Homo sapiens: one gene and its partners. The protein of the gene in region 4 purifies or fractionates together with the protein of the main gene of each other region. This does not show direct contact. Each region holds a gene or a part of one and is shown on either strand. Other genes may lie near its edges.

The links.
Region 1: the proteins of ALKBH4 (region 4) and ABCA7 purify together in Homo sapiens (affinity purification with mass spectrometry; one large-scale study listed by BioGRID and IntAct). This does not show direct contact.
Region 2: the proteins of ALKBH4 (region 4) and ORC2 purify together in Homo sapiens (affinity purification with mass spectrometry; one large-scale study listed by BioGRID and IntAct). This does not show direct contact.
Region 3: the proteins of ALKBH4 (region 4) and ORC3 purify together in Homo sapiens (affinity purification with mass spectrometry; one large-scale study listed by BioGRID and IntAct). This does not show direct contact.
Region 5: the proteins of ALKBH4 (region 4) and KLHL24 purify together in Homo sapiens (affinity purification with mass spectrometry; one large-scale study listed by BioGRID and IntAct). This does not show direct contact.
Region 6: the proteins of ALKBH4 (region 4) and KLHL2 purify together in Homo sapiens (affinity purification with mass spectrometry; one large-scale study listed by BioGRID and IntAct). This does not show direct contact.

The regions. Positions count from the first base shown.
Region 1 is NC_000019.10:1,050,107-1,053,606, reverse strand, and holds part of ABCA7 (phospholipid-transporting ATPase ABCA7), read right to left. Parts: intron 2,687-3,500; coding exon 2,555-2,686; intron 2,453-2,554; coding exon 2,313-2,452; intron 2,159-2,312; coding exon 2,021-2,158; intron 1,666-2,020; coding exon 1,481-1,665; intron 1,394-1,480; coding exon 1,321-1,393; intron 279-1,320; coding exon 76-278; intron 1-75. UniProt on the Homo sapiens protein: Catalyzes the translocation of specific phospholipids from the cytoplasmic to the extracellular/lumenal leaflet of membrane coupled to the hydrolysis of ATP. Transports preferentially phosphatidylserine over phosphatidylcholine.
Region 2 is NC_000002.12:200,953,661-200,957,160, reverse strand, and holds part of ORC2 (origin recognition complex subunit 2), read left to right. Parts: intron 1-3,500. UniProt on the Homo sapiens protein: Component of the origin recognition complex (ORC) that binds origins of replication. DNA-binding is ATP-dependent. The specific DNA sequences that define origins of replication have not been identified yet.
Region 3 is NC_000006.12:87,607,135-87,610,634, forward strand, and holds part of ORC3 (origin recognition complex subunit 3), read left to right. Parts: intron 1-538; coding exon 539-690; intron 691-1,961; coding exon 1,962-2,095; intron 2,096-3,500. UniProt on the Homo sapiens protein: Component of the origin recognition complex (ORC) that binds origins of replication. DNA-binding is ATP-dependent. The specific DNA sequences that define origins of replication have not been identified yet.
Region 4 is NC_000007.14:102,455,738-102,458,800, forward strand, and holds the end of ALKBH4 (alpha-ketoglutarate-dependent dioxygenase alkB homolog 4), read right to left. Parts: intron 2,245-3,063; coding exon 1,657-2,244; 3' UTR 501-1,656; downstream 1-500. UniProt on the Homo sapiens protein: Dioxygenase that mediates demethylation of actin monomethylated at 'Lys-84' (K84me1), thereby acting as a regulator of actomyosin-processes.
Region 5 is NC_000003.12:183,670,123-183,673,622, reverse strand, and holds part of KLHL24 (kelch-like protein 24), read right to left. Parts: intron 2,590-3,500; coding exon 2,401-2,589; intron 1,328-2,400; coding exon 1,139-1,327; intron 1-1,138. UniProt on the Homo sapiens protein: Necessary to maintain the balance between intermediate filament stability and degradation, a process that is essential for skin integrity.
Region 6 is NC_000004.12:165,308,561-165,312,060, reverse strand, and holds part of KLHL2 (kelch-like protein 2), read right to left. Parts: intron 1,509-3,500; coding exon 1,311-1,508; intron 598-1,310; coding exon 496-597; intron 1-495. UniProt on the Homo sapiens protein: Substrate-specific adapter of a BCR (BTB-CUL3-RBX1) E3 ubiquitin ligase complex that mediates the ubiquitination of target proteins, such as NPTXR, WNK1, WNK3 and WNK4, leading most often to their proteasomal degradation.

The DNA of each region.
Region 1 (3,500 bases), on a different chromosome or scaffold from region 4:
TTCATCCTTCAAAACACCACCTCCTCCAGGAAGCCCTCCTCCTGGCCCCACCTCACCACCACCCAGGCCTCACACCTCCTCGAGGCTGGTGTCGGAGATCCCGTAGCCAGTGAGCCTCAGCTCCGCCAGCCGCGTGTCTAGCTCTCGGAAGAGTGTGGCGAAGCTGCCGTCATGGGCACCCGTGTAGGGCAGCACCAGCACCAGCTCGTGTGGCAGCTCCTCCACCAGCCGTGCCCCGGGCACCCAGTGCTGTACCAGGGCCAGCAGCTGAGGAGTGCCTGTGTGGACAAAGGGGTGCTTCAGGGAGCCCCGGCTCACGCCCCACCCCAGTCTCCCTGGGGAAGAGGCATTGGTGACCTGTGAGGGGACTGTCCCGGCAGACAGAGATCAGGGTTAAGAACGTAGGCCAGGTGCGGCCGGGCGCAGTGGCTCACGCCTGTAATCCCAGCACTTTGAGGGTTGAAGCAGGCAGATCACCTGAGGTCAGGAGTTTGAGACCAGCCTGACCAACATGGTGAAACCCCATTTCTACCAAAAATGCAAAAATTAGCCAGGCATGGTGGAACCCACCTGTAATCCCAGTTACTCGAGAGGCTGAGGGAGGAGAAATGCTTGAACCCAGGAGGCAGAGGTTGCAGTGAGCTGAGATCACACCACTGCACTACAGCCTGGGCGACAGAGCAAGACTCAGAAACAAACAAAAAGAGATCTTGAGGGCAGTGCTGGACCTAGTGTTGGAGGTCAGGGGTAGGTTTGTCTCTGGGCTCAGCCCTGGTTGGGTTAAAGGTGGGGTCAGTGTTCAAGTTAGTCTCATGGTTCCGGCTCAGCCCAGGGATGGGGGCATCATCTCAGGTTCTCAAGTGCTCTCCTCCTCCTCTCCTTCTCCTCCCCCTCCTCTCCCTCCTCCTCCTCTCCCTCCTACTCCTCCCCCTTCTCCTCCCCCTCCTCTTCCTCCTACTTCTCCCCCTTCTCCTCCCCCTTTCCCTCCCCCTCCTCCTCCCCCTCCTATTCCTCCCCTTCTGCTCCCCTCCTACTCCTCCCCTTCTTCTCCCCCTCCTCCTCTCCCTTCCCCTCCTCCTCCCCCCTTCTCCTCCCCCTCCTCCTCTCCCTCCCCCTCCTCCTCTCCCTCCTACTCCTCCCCTTCGCCTCCCCTTCCACCTCTTACTCCTCCCCCTCCTCCTCCCCCTCCTCCTCCGCCTCAACCTCCTCTGCCGCTTCCTCCCCCTCCTCCTCCTCTTCCCCCTCCCCCTCCTCCTCCTCAAGTTAAGGCACAGCCACCCCACTGCCCACCCGCCTTGGGTCTCCCACCCCGGCCCTCACCGACTCTGCTGCCCTGGCTGCCATTCTTCTTTTCCTGCCTGGTGTCCACACTGCCCTCCATGTCAGTGTCAGCCTGCGGGCAGAGAGGCACCAAGTGGCTTGGCCTTCAGGGCTGAACAGAGTCCCGGGGGTCAGGGGTCAGGAGAAGGCCGGTCCCCACCTTCTCATTGGTGGTCAGGGGCAGGCGGGCCTTCACCAGCGTCAGGTAGTAGCCGGAGCCCAGGTGACGGCGCAGGAAGAGTGGGGAGCCACAGCAGCACAAGCGGCCACCTGCCACCACGGCCACACGGTCTCCCAGCAGCTCTGCCTCATCCAGGTGGTGGGTGGAGAGGATCAGCGTGCGACCTAGGCACGGGGGACCAACCCACAACTACCATCAGGCCGCCGCGTCTTTGCCCGAGCTGGGGCCTCTGCCAGGAGTTGTCTGCCCCATGAAGCAAACTCCTATTCATCCCTCAAAACCTCATCCCCAGAACCTCCTTGTTGGAAACCTTTTCTGGCCCTTCAGGCAGAATCCAGGGGAACCTCTGTCTATCCCCAACTCTTACTGTCTCGGTATTTGAGCAGTAGCCCCTAAATGCCATAGCAACAAGTGGGGTCCACATGTAGCAAACTCCTACTCATTCCTCAAAACCCCATCCCCAGCACTTCCTTGTCAGAAGCCTTTTCTGGCCCCTCGAGCAGAATCCCCAGCTCTTACCTTCTCGGTATTTGAGCAGCAGCTCCCAAATACCGCGGCGGGAAGCAGGATCCACGCCAGCCGTAGGCTCGTCCAGGATAACAACTTGGGAGCCGCCCACAAAGGCAATGGCCACGGACAGCTTCCGTTGCATCCCACCTGGTAGAGATGGGGAAGGGACCTCAGTGTGTCACACCCAGCCTTGGGCAAGGTTGCCTACCCACGTGGACCTCAGTACCCGGCTTCCCCCTGCCTTCAGGATGAATCCCCAGGCCCCTCCCTGTGAGGTGACCTCCCTTGGGGATGGGCTCACCAGAGAGGTGGCGAGTCTGCACACTCTGCTTGGAGACCAGCCCCACATCCTGCAGCAGACGGTCCTGCTCGGGGCCCACTACAGCGGCACTCAGACCCTTCAGCCGCCCATAGAACCAGACGTGCTCGTCCACGGTCAGCCTGCGGCCAGTGCACAGAGCAGAGTGACCCACATGGCAGGCAGAGTCCCAGAGGGCGTCCAGTCCCTTCCCACCGCTGCACTCTGGGCCTGCCGAGACGCACATGTCAAACAGCACGTTGTACTGAGGACAGACGCCCAGGTGGGGCCGGATGGCGGCCATGCTGGAGCGGACGTCGTGGCCCAGGATGAAGGCAGAGCCACCACTGGGTGGGAAGAGGCCACTCAAGATGGACCTGTGGATAGAGGGGTCTCAGAGTAGCCCCCTTCACAGAGTGCACTGGCAGTTACAGAGCTTCTATTTTTAATTTCTGTTTTTAAAAAATTTTTAATTATTTATTATTATTATTATTATTATTATTATTATTATTATTTTTGAGACGGAGTTTCACTCTGTTGCCCAGGCTGGAGTGCAGCGGCACGATCTCGGCTCACTGCAAGCTCCACCTCCCGGGTTCACGCCATTCTCCTGCCTCAGCCTCCCGAGTAGCTGGGACTACAGGCGCCCGCCACCATGTCCGGCTAATTTTTTTGCATTTTTAGTAGAGACGGGGTTTCACTGTTTCACCATGTTAGCCAGGATGATCTCAATCTCCTGACCTCGTGATCCACCCGCCTCGGCCCCCCAAAGTGCTGGGATTGCAGGCCTGAGCCACCACGCCTGGCCACAGAGCACCTATTAAATGCTACATCCAAAACCCTGTGATAGCCTTATTTTTATTTATTTGTTTATTTTTATTTTTTTGTGACAGAGTCTCACTCTGTTGCCCAGGCTGGAGTGCAACGGCACAGTCTCGGCTCACTGCAACCTCCGCCTCCAGGGTTCAAGCAGTTCTCCTGCCTCAGCCTCCTGAGTAGCTGGGATTACAGGTGCACGCCACCATCACACCCGGCTAATTTTTGTATTTTTAGTAGAGATGGTTTTGCCATATTGGCCAGGCTGTGTCTCAAACTCTGACCTCAGGCAATCCTCCCACCTCGGCTTGCCCAAGTGCTGGGATTACAGGCGTGAGCCACCACTCCCGCCCTATTTATTTTGAGACAGGGTCT
Region 2 (3,500 bases), on a different chromosome or scaffold from region 4:
TTTCCAGGATACATGTGTACAATGTGCAGGCTTGTTACATAGGTATACATGTGCCATGGTGGTTTGCTGCACCTTTCAACCCATCATCTAGGTTTTAAGCCCCACATGCATTAGCTGTCTGTCCTTATGCTCTCCCTCCCTCCACCCACCCGCAGGCTGTGGCATATGTTGTTCCCCTCCCTGTGTCCATGTGTTCTCATTTTTCAACTCCCACCTATGAGTGAGAATATGCAGTGTGTGGTTTTCTGTTCCTGTGTTAGTTTGCTGAGGATGATGACTTCTAGCTTCATACATGTCCCTGCAAAGGACATGATCTCATTCCTTTTATGGCTGCATAGTACTCCTAAAGTTATTTTCAAGATTATTTATTTATTTATTTATTTATTTTAGAGACAGGGTCTTGCTCAGTCACCCAGATTGGGATGCCATGGCACAATCATAGCTCATTGTAGCCTCCAACTTCTGGGTTCAGGAGATCCTCCCAACTTAGCCACCTGAGTAGCTAGTACTATTTTTAAGGTATTTATTTATGGCCAGACATGGTGGCTCACGCCTGTGATCCCAGTACATTGGGAGACTGAGGCAGGAGGACTGCTTGAGCCCAGGAGTTTGTAACCATCCTAGGCAACATAGTAAGATCCCGTTTCTACAAAAAAAAAAAGTTTTTAATTAGCTGGAAGCTGGGTGTGTGATGGCTCATGCCTGTAATCTCAGCATATTGGGAGACCAAAGCAGATTGATCGCTTGAGTCCAGGAGTTTGAGACTAGCCTGGCATGGTGGCACACACCTGTGGTCCCAGCTATGAGTGAGGCTGAGGTGGGAGGATCACTTGAGCCTGGGAGGTTGAGGCAGCAGTGAGCCGTGATCATACCACTACACTCCAGCCTGGGCAACAGAGTGAGACCCTGTCTCAAAAAAAAAATAAAACTAGCTGAGCATGGTGGCGTGTGCCTGTAGTCCTAGTTACTTGGGAGGCTAACGCAGAGGATTGCTTGAGCCCAGGAGGTTGAGGCTACAGTGAGCTGTGATTGCATCACTATACTCAGCCTGGGTGACAAAGCGAGACCCTAGGTCAAAACAGAACAAAAAAAAGATATTTATATTTTTAACTTATTTAAAATACCTTTCTAAAGCAAGTTACTTTATTCTTACCTTGATCTTTACAGAACTAGGAGGAGCATTTCAAGAAGTAGTGTTCTAACCCAGGGATGCTGGTATTATGTGTGTGGTTTTAATTTTTACATCTAAGCCAGATTCCTGCAAGATTATTCTTAACATAAAACATTTTTTTAGGTTCGAATTATATTTTAGTTAGGTTTTTCCTGGGTACAAGGAACACAGATCCCCACAACCTAGCTTAAAAAAATAATGACAAAGGAAAGAAATCAATATTGTTGGGTACTAGGAGAGTTGGAACTGGGACAGTGTTAAAAACTGAGGAACTGTGCTTTCATGAGTCTCCAGGTCTCCCTGTGTCATCTCTGTGCATCTGTTCTGATTTCTCTATGCCACATATTTTCTTCATGTACATGTGTTTTATTCTCACATACTTATAAATGTCCATCAAGTTCCCAGTGTTAAGTGATTTGGTTTTTCAGTTCTCCCATTCTAGATTCTCAAGAGTCAATTTAGCTCAATTCATTTTTAAAATCTGGACATAGAAATAGCATATAATTGGAATATCCACAGATGAATCACAGTTGAGTTATCTGTGCCTATTACTTATTATATTAATGAACATAATTACATAGTTCATTAACTATGGGGGTAGAGTCATATACTCCATGTATAGAGTTATACAAAAAATGACCACTGCTCCTCAATAGATTTAGTGGGCTGGGTAGGGTCTCCTATGTGTCCACAGCTAGACAGTTGACATTTTTTGAGCATATTCTAAATAAAACTTGGTGTTCTTGACTCCCTATTATGCCAGGCCTAAGAAGAGATTGATAACAGTATTCCACAAAGGAAACTTTTATCATAAAAATTGTCTCTTAAAAAAGTAGTATGTTTGTTGTAGAAATTCAGTGCTTCCAACCTTTCTCACATAACAGCACTCACAGCAAATGATATTTGGAGGCACAATGGAATAAATAGAAGAGGATGCTGCAGACCAAGGACAAATACCCCAGGGCCCTAACCCTACCCCTGCTACTGGCCTTGATTGGCATCCTCAAAGGCCTGAGAGAATCAGTACTCAGCACATATGAAACCCATACCATTTATTTATTTATTTATTTATTTATTTATTTATTCATTCATTCATTCATTCATTCCTCACACTGGGGAACTTTGCCTTATTTTTTGGCATCATGCCCTATGTTTTTCAACCTTTTTAAAATTATTGACCCCTAATTAGCCTTTTTAGACATTTTCTCCTAATCACTTTTTCCCACCCTAAAAATTTCAGTACTACATATATGCTGTATATCTGTTTATGTACTGTGACGCTTTGGAGGGCCACAGACTATTATATTAATAATGTCAAAGTCTTTTTTCCACACTCCCTCCTGTGCCAAGATCCAGTTTTACCCAATTGGGAGATGTATTGTACCTGTCAAGAATGCCTGCTTTAGAGAACGTGGAACCGTTAACATTTCAGTGTGTATCTTCTGTCTGTTCATACATGCATGGGCACACATAAGCTTGCACCATTACGTTTATAAATAGACTTTTTGCAATTAATAATGTATCATATATACATTACTCTGTCATTAGACATTCTTCTACAATAAGAGTTTTGACATGTATTGCCAAATATCCTCCTAAAGTTTATACAGATTACACTATTTAATCATAGTTACATTTTCCTAAAGACTTAGTTTTGGCCAGGTGCAGTGGCTCATGCCTGTAATCTCAGCACTTTGGGAGGCCAAGGCGGGTGGATCGCCTGAGGACGGGAATTCAAGACCAGCCTGGCCAACATGGCGAAACCGTGTCTCTACTAAAAATACAAAAAATTAGCTGGGCGTGGTGGTGGGTGCCTGTAATCTCAGCTACTCGGGAGGCTGAGGCAGGAAAATCGCTTGAACCCGGGAGATGGAGGTTGCAATGAGCCAAGGTCACACCATTGCACTTCAGCCTGGGCAACAAGAGTGAAAATCCATCTCAAAAAAAAAAAAAGAAAAAGAAAGAAAGAAATCCCAAATCCCATCTCTACAAAAAACATACAAAAATTAGCTGGGCGTGGTGGCATGCACCTGTAGTCCTAGCTGCTCAGAAGGCTGAAGTGGGAGGATCACTGGAGCCCAGGAGGTTGAGGCTGCAGTGAGCCACAATCACACCATTGCACACTAGCATGGGTGACAGAGCAAGAATTTATCTCATACACACACAAAAAAGCTTAGCATCTGAACCATTTTTAAAGTGTATGGGTTCAGTGGCATTAGGTACATTCACACCATTTGTAACCAATCTCCCAAACTTTTCTCATTGTACAAAACTGAAATTTATTCATCTGTAGATGGACACTTGGGTTGCTTCAACCTTTTGGGTATTG
Region 3 (3,500 bases), on a different chromosome or scaffold from region 4:
TAATATACATAAATGGCTGGGAGCAGTGTTTGATGCTTGTAATCCCAGCACTTTGGGAGGCTGAGGCAGGCAGATCATGAGGTGAGGAGTTCGAGACCAGCCTGGCCAACATGGCAAAACCCCGTCTCTACTAAAAAATACAAAAATTAGCTGGGTATGGTGGCACGCGCCTGTAATCCCAGCTACTGGGGAGGCTTGAGGCAGGAGAATTGCTTGAACCCGGGAGGCAGAGGTTGTATTGAGCCGAGATCCTGCCACTGTACTCCAGCCTGGGCAACAGAGCGAGACTCCATCTCAAAAAAAAAAAATAAAGATAATATACATAAGCTTTGGTTTAGTCTTAGTCTGAATTAATGAAGGTACTAATGAGCATCAGTAGTTAATATGTTAAATGTTACATTAGCTGTATTGATGGTAAGTATAAAAAAACACATTCTACCAAAAAAAAAAGTAATACACTCAGCAAGAAGTTTCAAGAGCTTTGGTTTTATTTTTAGAAGAGGCAGAGATAAGCTTTCTTACTTTTTATATTCCACAGATATGAAACATTTTTTGCAAAAGTTGATCTCACAGTTGATGGACTGCTGTGTAGATATAAAATCCAAAGAGGAGGAAAGTGTTCACGTCACCCAAAGAAAGACACATTATTCAATGGATTCACTTTCCAGTTGGTATATGACTGTCACACAGGTAGATATAAACTGATGATTTTCTCCCAGGAAATTGACGTATGATTGATGTGGCTTGGAATAATATTAGACAGTACTGTTTTGATCTAACAAGGATATGTTTCTGCAGCACTAGGTGTTAATTTAAAAGTAGGTATTTATTTTTTCTAATGCTACTCGAATTTTAAAATGTTCTTTTATTAGTATGCAGCCTAATTCCAGGTAAGTGCTTAGGTTTTTACAAGGACATATTATTTGTTGGAGAATGTCCTCTAATGACAAAAACAGAGCATCAGGAATTGCTTCTGTTGCATGTTCCATCTCTGTGACAGTAACTATAACTTTAGTATATTATCTCTTATGTTCCTCAATGTTTGCTTTGTCCAATAGAACCATGCTGCTAGTATCCACTGTCAACTTAGTTCAATGAAGAATAATCATGTATTTTCTAAAGTCTAATTTGTTTTATGTTTAGAGTTCTTAGGGAATCAGTGTTCTTTAAGTAAAGTATGTTAGACAAACAGATAAGTAAAAAGAAGTTCCATTCTACCATGACAGTCTGGTGAAAAATAATAACCTAGGTTAACACTAGGTAATTGCGTCATAAAACCATAGTCTTAGGTTATGGTGCTGTGTAGCCAGACAGTATGGGAAAAAAAATACTGTGGTTACATTTTCCAATCAACATTTTTGCTGAAATCATCGTAAGTGAAGTTTCATTTTGCTTTATATAGGGACTAAACTACGTCTAATACTTACCATAATACCTGATTTGCTCCACAATTTTAGACTTTCCAGATAAAATGCTACTTTTGGTTTATGTCAGATATCTTTTTAAAAATTGAGATTGGACCAGATGATACCTAGTATCCATTTCAGGCTTGAAATTTCACAGTGGCAGAGTAGCAAGCACTACTATTCATTATATTTTTTTCATTAAAAATACTAGTTCTCACTATAAAGCAAAGCAGAATATAACTTTCTACCAACAGAAAAATCAATTTTGTAGAAAATTTCCTCTTCCATGTTTTTTTCTGTCATTTCCTTAGCAGAAAATATAAATATTTCATATGAGTTATAGATTTTTACTGAACCTTTTTCTTCTTGGTTATTATTCCCATGTCAGACACAGCAAGATTCTAGTAACCTGAGTTTCTATTTATCGTGTGGTAGAAAAAAAATAAACAGTGTTATTGTGAAATTTAAAGAGAGATATGTCAACATGTGGCATTATAACATTGTTTGAGTGGTAAGGCTTACCTTTAACTCTTTCTTTCTGCAATGGCTTAAAAGAAGACGGACCCAAAAATGCTAAGCAAAAAAAGGACTACTTCTAGCCAATGGCAGTCTCCTCCTGTTGTCGTTATCTTGAAGGATATGGAAAGCTTTGCCACAAAAGTACTACAAGACTTCATAATTATCAGCAGGTAGATGGTGTATTACCTGGCTTTTATGAAAAACTCCCTTTTTAAGAAAATACTACTTTTAACTTGAAAAGTATAATCTTCATTTTAATACCAACTGGATAAAAATCAAAGTATTCAAATTCTTTATAATTGAATATTCAAAGACTTCCTATCAGATTTTCCATTTGCTTTTTGAGCCAAGAATGAGAATCAAAGGCACATTTAGCCAGTTTTAAATTGACATGGTAAGATAGTATTAAATATGGTTTTTCTCACCAAGATTGACTGTCTCTTACTCACCCATTAAATAGATAAACTACTCCAGGTTGAGTTTGTTGTTTTTGTTTTTTTCTTTTTTTTTTTTGAGATGGAGCTTTGTTCTGTTGCCCAGGCTGGAGTGCAGTGGTACGATCTCGGCTCACTGCAGCCTCCGCCTCCTGGGTTCAAGCAATTCTGCCTCAGCCTCCTGAGTAGCTGGGATTACAGGTGCCCACCACCACACCTGGCTAATTTTTGTATTTTTAGTAGAAACAGAGTTTCACCATGTTGGCCAGGCTGTTCTCGAACTCCTGACCTCAGGTGATCTGCCTGCCTCGGCCTCCCAAAGTGCTGGGATTACAGGAGTGAGCCACCATACCTGGCTAAGTTGAGATTTTTATTAGGTCTTATTTTCTGATACCCATCCATCCTTAGATGCTCTGAGTTGCATATAGTTTTACTAAGCAAAAGTGTCTTCTAAATAACATTATTTTGCATTTATATAATACTTCTAGTGAGAAACTATTTTCACGATTGCATTGCGTCTTCAAAGCAATCATGTGAGACTCAGAATTGAAATAATGAACTCTTATTTTAAAATCCAGTGACATGCATTTTCCCTGGTGTATTTTTTAGGATGGAATTTATTTTGGCCTCTTCTATATGTCAACTTGTTTTAATAGTTATAGCTACATTTGCCTAAAGCTATATATTGTGTTAAATAATTTACTAGTATACTTTATTTTTATTTTTATTTTTGGAGACAGAGTCTCGCTCTGTCCCCCAGGCTGGAGTGCAGTGGCGCCTTCTCAACTCCCTGCCACCTCCGCCTCCCGGGTTCAAGCAGTTCTCATGCCTCAGCCTCCCAAGTAGCTGGGATTACAGGTGCCCGCTGCCACGCCTAGCTAATTTTTGTATTTTTAGTAGAGACAGGGTTTCACCATATTAGCCAGGCTGGTCTCAAACTCCTGACCTCAGGTGATCTGCCTTCCTTAGTGCTCTTTGGGGCCTCCCAAAGTGCTAGGATTACAGACATGAGCCACCACACCCAGCTAATTTACTAATATACTTTATTTTTTTTTATTTTTTATTTTTTTTGAGACGGAGTCTCGCTCTGTCGCCCAGGTCGGACTGCGGACTGCAGTGGCGCAATCTCGGCTCACTGCAA
Region 4 (3,063 bases):
GCCGGGCTCTGTGCTCTTGCTCCAAGTGAGTTGACCAGGGAGCCGAAGTTAAGGTGGCCTGGGAGCCACGTCCTCCCACCTAGCGGCTGGGCTCTCACAGCCACTAGAAACCCATCAGCCTTTCCCCTGGGTCTATGCGGGGCTCTTCAGCCCTCCTGGGAGCTCAGTGGCTGGGATGCTGCTTTACAGACAGTGCACGGCTCTGCCATCTGACAGCTCCCAGAGGGTTCTGGGGGTGACTGTAAAGAGTGGTGCTGGCCCCGAACCTTTCCTGTTCCCCTGGATTTAGTTCCCAGCAGGTGGTGAGGAACTGAACATTTTGTCCCATAGTGGTGGGAGAGAGGGCTGGCCACATGGGTCCAGGCCACCCCCTCAGCCTCCACAGCCTGCCCCGCACCCAGCCACAGGAACAGCAGAGCAGCTCCCCCATCCAGGTAAGCGCCCCCACCACAGCCCCATCACAAAGGAATAGCCTCCTGGTGTAGTGGGAGGTGAGGAGCTTTTTTTGTTTTCCTTTTATTTATTTTAGGGACAGGGTCTTGCTCTGTTGCCAAGTTAAGTGCAGTGGTATGATCATGAGCTCACTGCAGCCTTGACATGGTGGTAAAGCCATCCTCCCGCCTCAGCCTTTCGAGTAGCTGGGACTACAGGTGTGTGCCACCATGCCCAGACGCCCAGCTAATGTTTGTATTTTTTGTAGAGATGGGGGTCTCACTATGTTGCCCAGGCTGGCCTCAAGCAATCCTCCCACCTGAGCCCCGCAAAGTACTCGGATTACAGGTGTGAGTCACCGCGCCTGGCCGGGAGCTTTAATTTTTCCTACTTGTTAACAGCGTTATGGGGCTGGAAGGAGGCTCTCAGATTTCCCTGCCCTCCTCACATCCCCCAACCCTCCCTGGGCGTGGGGGTGTCAAGCATGAGTCAGGCTGAGCCTGACTCTGAAGCTGTTCCCAGCTCTTTAGTCTAAACTTCAAATCTTCAACCCTGTTCCCTAATCCAACACATTCCCCAAATGAAGGGACTGGACAGTGAGATATCGGGAAACCCCATGAAAATAGATGCATAATAAAGGTGAAAATCATTTAAAATGTTCCCATTTTTTTTTTTTTTCAAAACAGTCTTGCTCTGTCACCGAGGCTGGAGTGCAGTGGCGTGATCTTGGCTCACTGCAACCTCCGCCTCCCAGGTTCAAGCAATTCTCCCACCTTAGCCTCCCGAGTAGCTGGGATTACGGCTGTGAGTCACCACACCCGGCTAATTTTTGTAGTTTTTGTAGAGACGGGTTTTCACCGTGTTGGCCAGGCTGGTCTCGAACTCCTGGCATCAAGTGATCCGCCCACCTCAGCCTCCCAAAGTGTTAGGATTACAGGTGTGAGCCACTGTGCCCGGCCCCCAGTATTTTTTAAGCTCAAATGATCCCATGTCCCCAAGACTGTGACAAACTAAATAACCAAAAAAGTGTGGCCACGGTCCAGGTGGAAGGGGGCTGCCTGGAGGTACGTTCCCATCAAAACCTGCTCCTGGGCAGGGCTCACACTGCTCACAGCATCAGGGGTCAGCCATCTTCTCTTGAAACCCCGTGAGTTGCAGGAGGCCCTGTTCTGTGCTCCTCATTTCAATCCCGGGATCAGTCAAGTCTGGAGCCAAGGAGGCGGTTCACACGGGTCTTCCCTGGAAGGAGAGGGCGATCCGCAGCAGTTCCTGGCCCAGCTCTTGCTGCCTCCCTCCAGGGCCAAACTCAGCCGACAGCTCCCGGAAAGTGACGCAGACGCGGCGGGCCTCGATGTGTCTGCGGTGGATGGCATGCTTCCACTGGTGCCGTGCCGCCCCGGTGAGGACCAGCAGGGAGCGGGCGGGTAAGGGGATGGCCACCTCCACCTCCTGGCATAGCACCGACCGGCTGGGTGCTATCACGCTGTCCACCAAGGCCTCCGGGGCAGCCGACGGGGCCGAGCAGAGGAGCAGGCTCCCGGGCGCCTCCCGACACATGGACAGCACGGTGGGGGACAGGAGGTTGAGGCTGACCAGCCGCTCCCCCCACAGCCAGGCGTCGTCCAGGTGGGGGTCAATGGCAGAGCCCCGCTCGGGGCAGTAGTCCAGGTTGCACTGCTCGACGGGCCGGAAGCCCTCCAGCCCCGGGTAGAGGCCCATCCTCCGCACCACCTCCCGGCTGAAGCTGGGGAGGCCGCAGAAGCCCTCGGTCTTTAGCTTCTGTTTCCGAAAGTTGACTTTGGGGCCATAGTCCTGAAGGATGAAGACAAAGAGGACATGAGGTGTCTGAGTTTACGAAGATGTCTACCACAGACTAGGTGGGAAGAATTCAGTCATAGTGACCCAGGCAAGCAAAAGCCCCCTGGCTTCATGGAGGTGAAGCAGGAGGAGGCAGACTCAAGGAGACAGAAGTGACAGCAAATGGCCGGGCATGGTGGTGCATGCCTGTAATCCCAGCGCTTTGGAAGGCTGAGGCGGAGGGAGCTCTTGAGGCCAGGAGTTTGAGACCAGTCTGGGCAACAAAGTGAGACCTCCTCTCTACAAGAAATTTAAAAATTAGGCTGGGCATGGTGGCTCACGCCTATCATCCTAACACTTTGGGAGGCCCAGGCAGGTGGATCGTTTGAGCCCAGGAGTTCCAGACCAGCCTGGGCAACACAGCAAAACTCTGTCTCTAGTAACAAAACAAAAATTAGACAGATGTGGTGGCACAGGCCTTAGTTCCAGCTACTTAGGAGGCTGAGGTGAGAGGACTGTTGGAGCTCAGGAGGTTGAGGCTGCGGTGAGTGGAGACTGAGCCACCGTACTCCAGCTTGGGAGACAGAATGAGACACCCTGTCTCAAAATAATAATAATAATAATTATCTGGGCTTGGTGGCACATGCCTTAGTTTCAGCTACTCAGGAGGCTGAGGTAGGAGGATCGCTAGAGCCTGGGGGGTCAAGGCTGCGGTGAGCCAATATCACATATTGCACTCCAGTCTGGGCGACAGAGCGAGACCCTGTCTCAAAAAAAAAAAAAAAACCTGTACACAAATGTTCACAACAGCCAAAAAGTGACAACAACGCCAAT
Region 5 (3,500 bases), on a different chromosome or scaffold from region 4:
GGGGAAAAGGCCTTTTGGGAGGTGGCAGTGTGGGTAGGGAGTAGGGCTCCGGTTAGAATACATGGATGAAAGAAAGGTGAGCACAGCCATTTCCTTTACAACAGAAATAACAGATTTCCCAGCCTCTAACCAAAGAAACAACAAGTTTGGGAACATTCCTCTCTTCTGAAATATGAAAGAGAGGGGATAAATACTGGAGTAGGATTGTGAAAAAAGTCAAGAGAAAAAAAAAAGAACAGCCCAAGTGTAACAGATACTTCTCCATGGGATGGTAAAAAGGAAGTTATTTCAATAAAATGACCCCTTGGAAGGAGTTCAAAACAGGTTGCCATATGCTTTATGTGGAGTTTTGAAAAATATATAAAATAATTCAAGCAAACATGAAATATTTTATTTTACTTATTTATTTACTTTTTTGAGACGGAGTCTCACTCTGTTGCCCAGGCTGGAGTGCAAGTGGCATGATCTCGGCTCACTGCAACCTCTGCCTCCCAGATTCAAGTGATTCTCCCGCCTCAACCTCCTGAGCAGCTGGGATTACAGGCGTGTGCCACCAAACCCAGCTAATTTTTTATTTTATTTTGTTTTATTTTATTTTATTTTATTTTTATTTATTTATTTATTTTTGAGACGGAGTTTCGCTCTTGCTGTCCAGGCTGGAGTGCAATGGCTCGATCTCGGCTCACCGCGACCTCCACCTCCCGGGTTCAAGCAATTCTCCTGCCGCAGCCTCCCTAGTAGCTGGGATTACAGGCAATGCGCCACCACGCCCAGCTAATTTTGTATTTTTAGCAGAGACGGGGTTTCTCCATGTTGGTCAGGCTGGTCTCGAACTCCCGACCTCAGGTGATTGGCCTGCCTCAGCCTCCCAAAGTGCTGGGATTACAGGCATGAACCACCACGCCTGGCCATAATTTTTTAGTAGAGACGGGGTTTCACCATATTAGCCAGGCTGGTCTTGAACTCCTGACCTCAAGTGATCTATCCACCTCGGCCTCCCAAAGTGCTGGGATTACAGGCGTGAGCCACCACGCCCAGCCTGAAATATTTTAAAATTGAAATTCCAGTGTATTAATAATGATTATGTACTTGGTCCCTCTTAGATTTATTTTTCTTTTGTACTGCTTTATGTTATTACCTGACGGCTGAATGTATTCTGTACGTGCATCCAGTAATCTTCAACTGGATCGTAACAGTATATTGCCTTGGTCAGTCCACCGGCAACATAGATCAGGTTGTTTAGGGATACAGCTGTTATACACCTTTTGGCAATTGGGATAGCTGCACGAAGTAGCCAAGAATTGGTTTCTGGATCATAAGATTGAACCTAATAACATATAAAAATATATAATTAAAATTTCTAAACAAAAATGGAAATGTACTTAATAAAGAATCTACCAATACCTACAAACATTATTTAAAATAAAATCCTATTAATTCAGAGAATTAAGAGAGGTTAGCCTGATAGTGAAATGTCTGAATTACGAACATTCTCAAATAAAATGCAAATTTATTACTATCAAGCAGAATAGAGTACCAAACACACAGATTGTTTCTAGAATGAATGGCCACCAGGTTTGTCCACTAAAATTAACAGTCTAAATCTTTTCACAATTGTGTTATGTAGGATAACTATGCCTCACATCTGAATATAACTTCTTAATGCTTTTAGGGAGTCCTTTCTTCAAAAGAAAACAAGTAAACCTCAATTCAATCAGTATGCTCTGAATTATCACAAATTCTGAAATAACAAATTCTAAATAAGTAACATTTGATCACATTATTTTAAACTGAATTTAGAAAAAGAATTAATAGACTGACAAAATTCAGTTAACAGTGCTAAACCAGCTAGGCATTAGATGCTTTTTTCCAGAATAAACATTTCCTGAGATGTCAGGATAGCACATATTCTTTCGTCCCAGAAGTTTACTGAACCGGAACAACTTTGAGCCATCCTCTATTTACACTAAGGAGGTTTCCTTTCCTTTTTTCTGAAAAATACTTCAAAAGTATGTAGAAAATGACCCAGTTGGAAGCAGCATATTTAGTTACTATGTCTTACCCTTTGCTAATTCACTTCTCAACTGTGTTTTGTATAAATAGTTTTTAGATTTTGTAGATGACAGCAAAGGCTCAGAACAATTTATTTAGTAGAAAACTTCTACACAGATAGTCTCATTTCAAAAAGATTGGATCACATTTGTTAGAGCAAATTGTTAGATATACTAGAGTCTCACTTTAGCAACCCAGAATTCAATGTTTTTCTCCAAAAGCATATAGTACCAGAAAATTTTTAAAAGACCCCTCACACTATGTGACCTGGCTACCTACTTGATAAGCCTTCTGTATTTCCCTTCTTGTACTTAATATTGGTAATTTCTTTAAAAGTGCATGGCTTACCTTATCAGAACAAGTATTATCATCAGGTCCTCCACCAATCACAAACAGTTTGCCTACACAGCTAGTCACTGCAGGAGAACTCACGGCTTCCTTAAGGGGAGCAACTTCAGTCCATCGATTTGAAAAGGAATCATAACATTCTACGCTGCTAAGTCTGTTTTGCCCATCATAGCCACCGACAACATATACCTATATGTAAAATACATGGAAAAATCTTAATTATCAAAAGTCTGAATTTTGAAGTAGTTGGCTAAAGAATTAAGGGATCTCTTCTCTTTAAAATGCCCTTGCTAAATAAATATAATTGCAATATATTTAGCTCAGAGTTTCTGAACCTTTTAAAAAATCATCATCCCCTACCACCATCACAATCCACGGAGCCTTTTTAGGTATTTTCTTCCTAATAGTCTTCCCTCAATAAAATTGTAATACCACAGAGAAATTGTGTATCTATTTACCTTAATGTATGTATATCTGTTCTTTACACAAGAAAGGGTACATTTTTTTTCATCTTCTAAGAAACAATCTTTGCCCCCTTGGGGGTAATACTGCTCACACTGAGAATGGTACAATTTAGCTTAAATATTCACACTTATGGGTAATGAAATATTTGATTATTATAAAGTATTAGAGCTGTGAAACTAAAATATTAGGAAAGAATTACTAGACTATGAGAGTGCTGGTCAGGCCTTTCTTTTAGTCCGTACAATACCTAGAAAAGTACTTGACACAAAATGAACTTTAAAGTTCACAGAGCTTTTATGTACATTTTCTTTTCACAAATAAGAGAAAGGTAGGGCAAATTAGTATCTTTATATGACAGGTGAACCAATCAGTAAGATATTTATTAAATGGCTTATATGCAAAAAATCCATGGTTTATATAGGGAACTTTCAACCTAACAAAGCTCTCCAGCAGCTTAACATCCACGTTTCTCTCTCTCTCTTTTTCTTTTTTTGGAGATGGGTCTCATTCTGTTGCTCAGGCTGGAGTGCAGTGGCATGATCACAGCTCACTACAGCCTCAACCTCCGAGGTTCAAGTAATCCTCTCACCTCAGCCTCCCAAGTAGCTGAAACCACAGGTGTGTATCACCACACC
Region 6 (3,500 bases), on a different chromosome or scaffold from region 4:
CCTAGGTTGTGCACTCCTTATGACACTCTAATGCCTGATGATCTGAGGTGGGAACAGTTTCATCCCAAAACCATCCCCCCAACCCACCCCTGTCCATGGAAAAATTGTCTTCCACAAAACCAGTCCCTAGTGCCAAAAAGGTTGGGGACTGCTGTTATATAAGTCAAACACACACGTGTTATATAAGTCAAACACACACAGTTATATAAGTCAAACACACACACACACACACACACACACACACACACACAGAGAGAAAGGAGGAGGGATAAAGGGAGGGGGATAGAGAGGGAGAGAAAAGGCTTTATATAGGTTGATTTATATAGAGAAGCTAATTTTAAAAAGAGGATAACTGAAATTTTACAGTAATTACGACTTTTCTTTTTAAAATGATAATTAGCTTGCCCATTCAGAAAACTAAAGTTGAGATTACTGGAAGAACCACTCTCAAGGATCAAAATGCCACATGTACCTGAAAGAACTGTCAACACCTACCTCCAACAACACCCACACCAACACTGCTCCTCCTTGTATTCATGGGAGCTACATGAAACCACTCATTAGACTTTATGTTGTATGCTTCCACAGATGACAAACCTATAATAAAGCACAATAGTCTTCATTTCCTTCTCTAAAAAATGTCAATAGTTCATATATATGGAAAAATACTTCAGGTATGTTATACTGGGCTAAAATTAAGAGAAGAAAATGGTGGAACATAAACACAGCAATTACATGAAAAACAGGTACAGCTTGTTTTCCAGAAGGCTCCTACCTAAGCTACTGATATTTATAAGCTTTTAAAATTTGATGACTGATACTGATGCATAAGAAAGAAAATTTATATACTCACCACTCATATCATTTAAGGAAATTCTTGATAAAATTTTAAACTTATCTTTAAATACCAGTTAAAACCTCACATGTTGTAATCCCAGCACTTTGGGAGGCCGAGGTGGGCGGATCACAAAGTCAGGAGATTGAGACCATCCTGGCTAACATGGTGAAACCCCGTCTCTACTAAAAAATACAAAAAAAATTAGCCGGGCGTGGTGGCGGGCACCTATAGTCCCAGCTGCTCGGGAGGCTGAGGCAGGAGAATGGCATGAACCCGGCAGGCGGAGCTTGCAGTGAGCCGAGATTGCGCCACTGTACTCCAGCCTGGGCGACGGAGCAAGACTCCATCTCAAAAAAAAAAAAAAAAACACAAAAAACCTCACATGTGCCCTAATGTTGCCACAATTTATTCCATAAACATGACTACTACGTTAATTTTAGCAGCAATGTAGAATAAATGAAAAGGAAATTACCTGTACTCCCATCAAAGCCTCCCACAGCGTATAATAATCCATTTAACACAGCAGCTCCCAAAGTGCTTCTCCGGTCTCTCATGTTAGCAACGCTGGTCCACTGGTCCTTCACAGGGTCGTAGGAATCTACAGTGCGAACTCTTAATGAGCCATTAAAGCCACCAACAGCAAAAACAAGTCCAGCCATGTAGACCATGCCTGCAAAAGGAGTACAGCATTTAATGATCAACATGCAACTCAACTACCACCAATATCCAAAGATTGCTTTCTGATAAATCTATAGCTGTTGTCAGAACATGCTACTCTTAGGAGGAGCCTGATTAAATAAATCCTTGAAAATGCTATTCATTTGCAAGAACATCCAATCACTAAATTGTCTTTCTTTCTAAGGTTATTATTATTATTATTTCTTCCTTTCTTTATTTTGAGACGGAGTCTCACTCTGTCGCCCAGGCTGGAGTGCAGTGGCGCCATCTCAGCTCACTGCAAGCTCAGCCTCCCGTGTTCACACCATTCTCCTGCCTCAGCCTCCTGAGTAGCTGGGACTACAGGCGCCCGCCACCACACCCAACTAATTTTTTGTATTTTTAGTAGAGATGGGGTTTCACTGTGGTCTTGATCTCCTGACCTCGTGATCTGCCCGCCTTGGCCTCCCAAACTGCTGGGATTACAAGCGTGAGCCACTGCACCTGGCCTTCTTTCTAAGGTTATTAAAAAATGCAATGGCATGGGCTAAAGTACCATGTTGACTCTTGGTTTTTTTAAATATCAATTTACAAGCTTAAATAATGAGCCATTATTTTCCAACTACTTGAACCTGTACTCACCTCCCATAGCTTTCAATTTTGGATCTTCTAGTGGATATTCTTAGAATGAAACTCCATACGCTTATAATTTATTTGCATAACGTATTCCTAGTTTATCATGTTAGTGGGCTAAATCAGGGGTCGGCAAATTTACAGCTACAGGCTAAATTTGGTCCAGCGAACTATTTCTGTAGAACCCATAAGCTAAGCATGGTTTTTATATTTTTAAATGGCTGAAAAACAACCAAAAGAGGAATAATATTTCATGACATGTAAAAAGCTATATGAAATTCAAATTTCACCATCCATAAATATAGTTTTATTGGAACACTGCCACACTCATTCATTTACATATGGCTGGTTTTGCACTATAGCAGTAGATAAGAAGCTGTGACAGAGACCATATAACCACAAAGCCTAAAATACTTATTCTCTGGTCCTTCAAGAGAAAGTCTGCTGATCCTTGGGCTAAAGAGATATTACGGAATCAGTGAATGGAGAAACTAGACTGCTAGACTCAGGTTTCAACCATCTTTTCACTTTTCTCAACTTTTTTCATGCTGCTGTCCTAATCGGACAGGCTCCTATCACCATCTACTCTGTTCTCTTTAACTCTGAATCCTCAGTTAAAGTTCCACATTCTCTATGATGCCTTCCCTGTCCACTTTAGCCTAAAAGGGATTATGTCCAGCTCCCGAACCCTATAGCAAATAACATCTATGTTGTGTACTTCAGGTTTAATAAATGTACCGTCTATAATATAATTACTTTAAATTGTTCAAATTTTTATTGTTCTTAGTTCTATAATGTTTATGTCCCTGTGCCAGCCTGAGGGCAGGCAATGTGGCTCACAGTTCTCTGAATCCCTGTAGGGAGAACTGGAATCACCAGATATGTTTGACGAGCTCAATGTTTTGCAGATGTTATCAGGCAAGAGATGTACCTCTGCCCCTTACTGTCTTAACCTCTGGTGCTTTATTCCCCCACCCCTGTAAAAATACACGGAAATGCAGTCCTCCATATGGCAACAAGACCTTTCCAGTTCAGATGAAGTTGCCTGTTTTGGCCCCCTGCTAGCACAGAATTTAACAGACATCCTAAGAGGGCCTGGAGACTCGTGAGCAGCAACATACCAGGCAGCATGTTTCAGCATGAAACAATCCTGTATCCCAAAATCATAACTAACTCCAGGGAATGTTCATTGTGGGAATCTTGCCCATTGCAATTTTCATTTTCCTTTCTCTACCCACAAAATAACACTACAAATATGCCATCTCTTAGAAGTAACATAGTATGCTTACCAAGGTTTAGAGAATTTTAGGTCACAGAGAGGAAGAAAATAAATGAATCAATCTATGAAGTGCCCCCTACCAAAGGCTCTGGG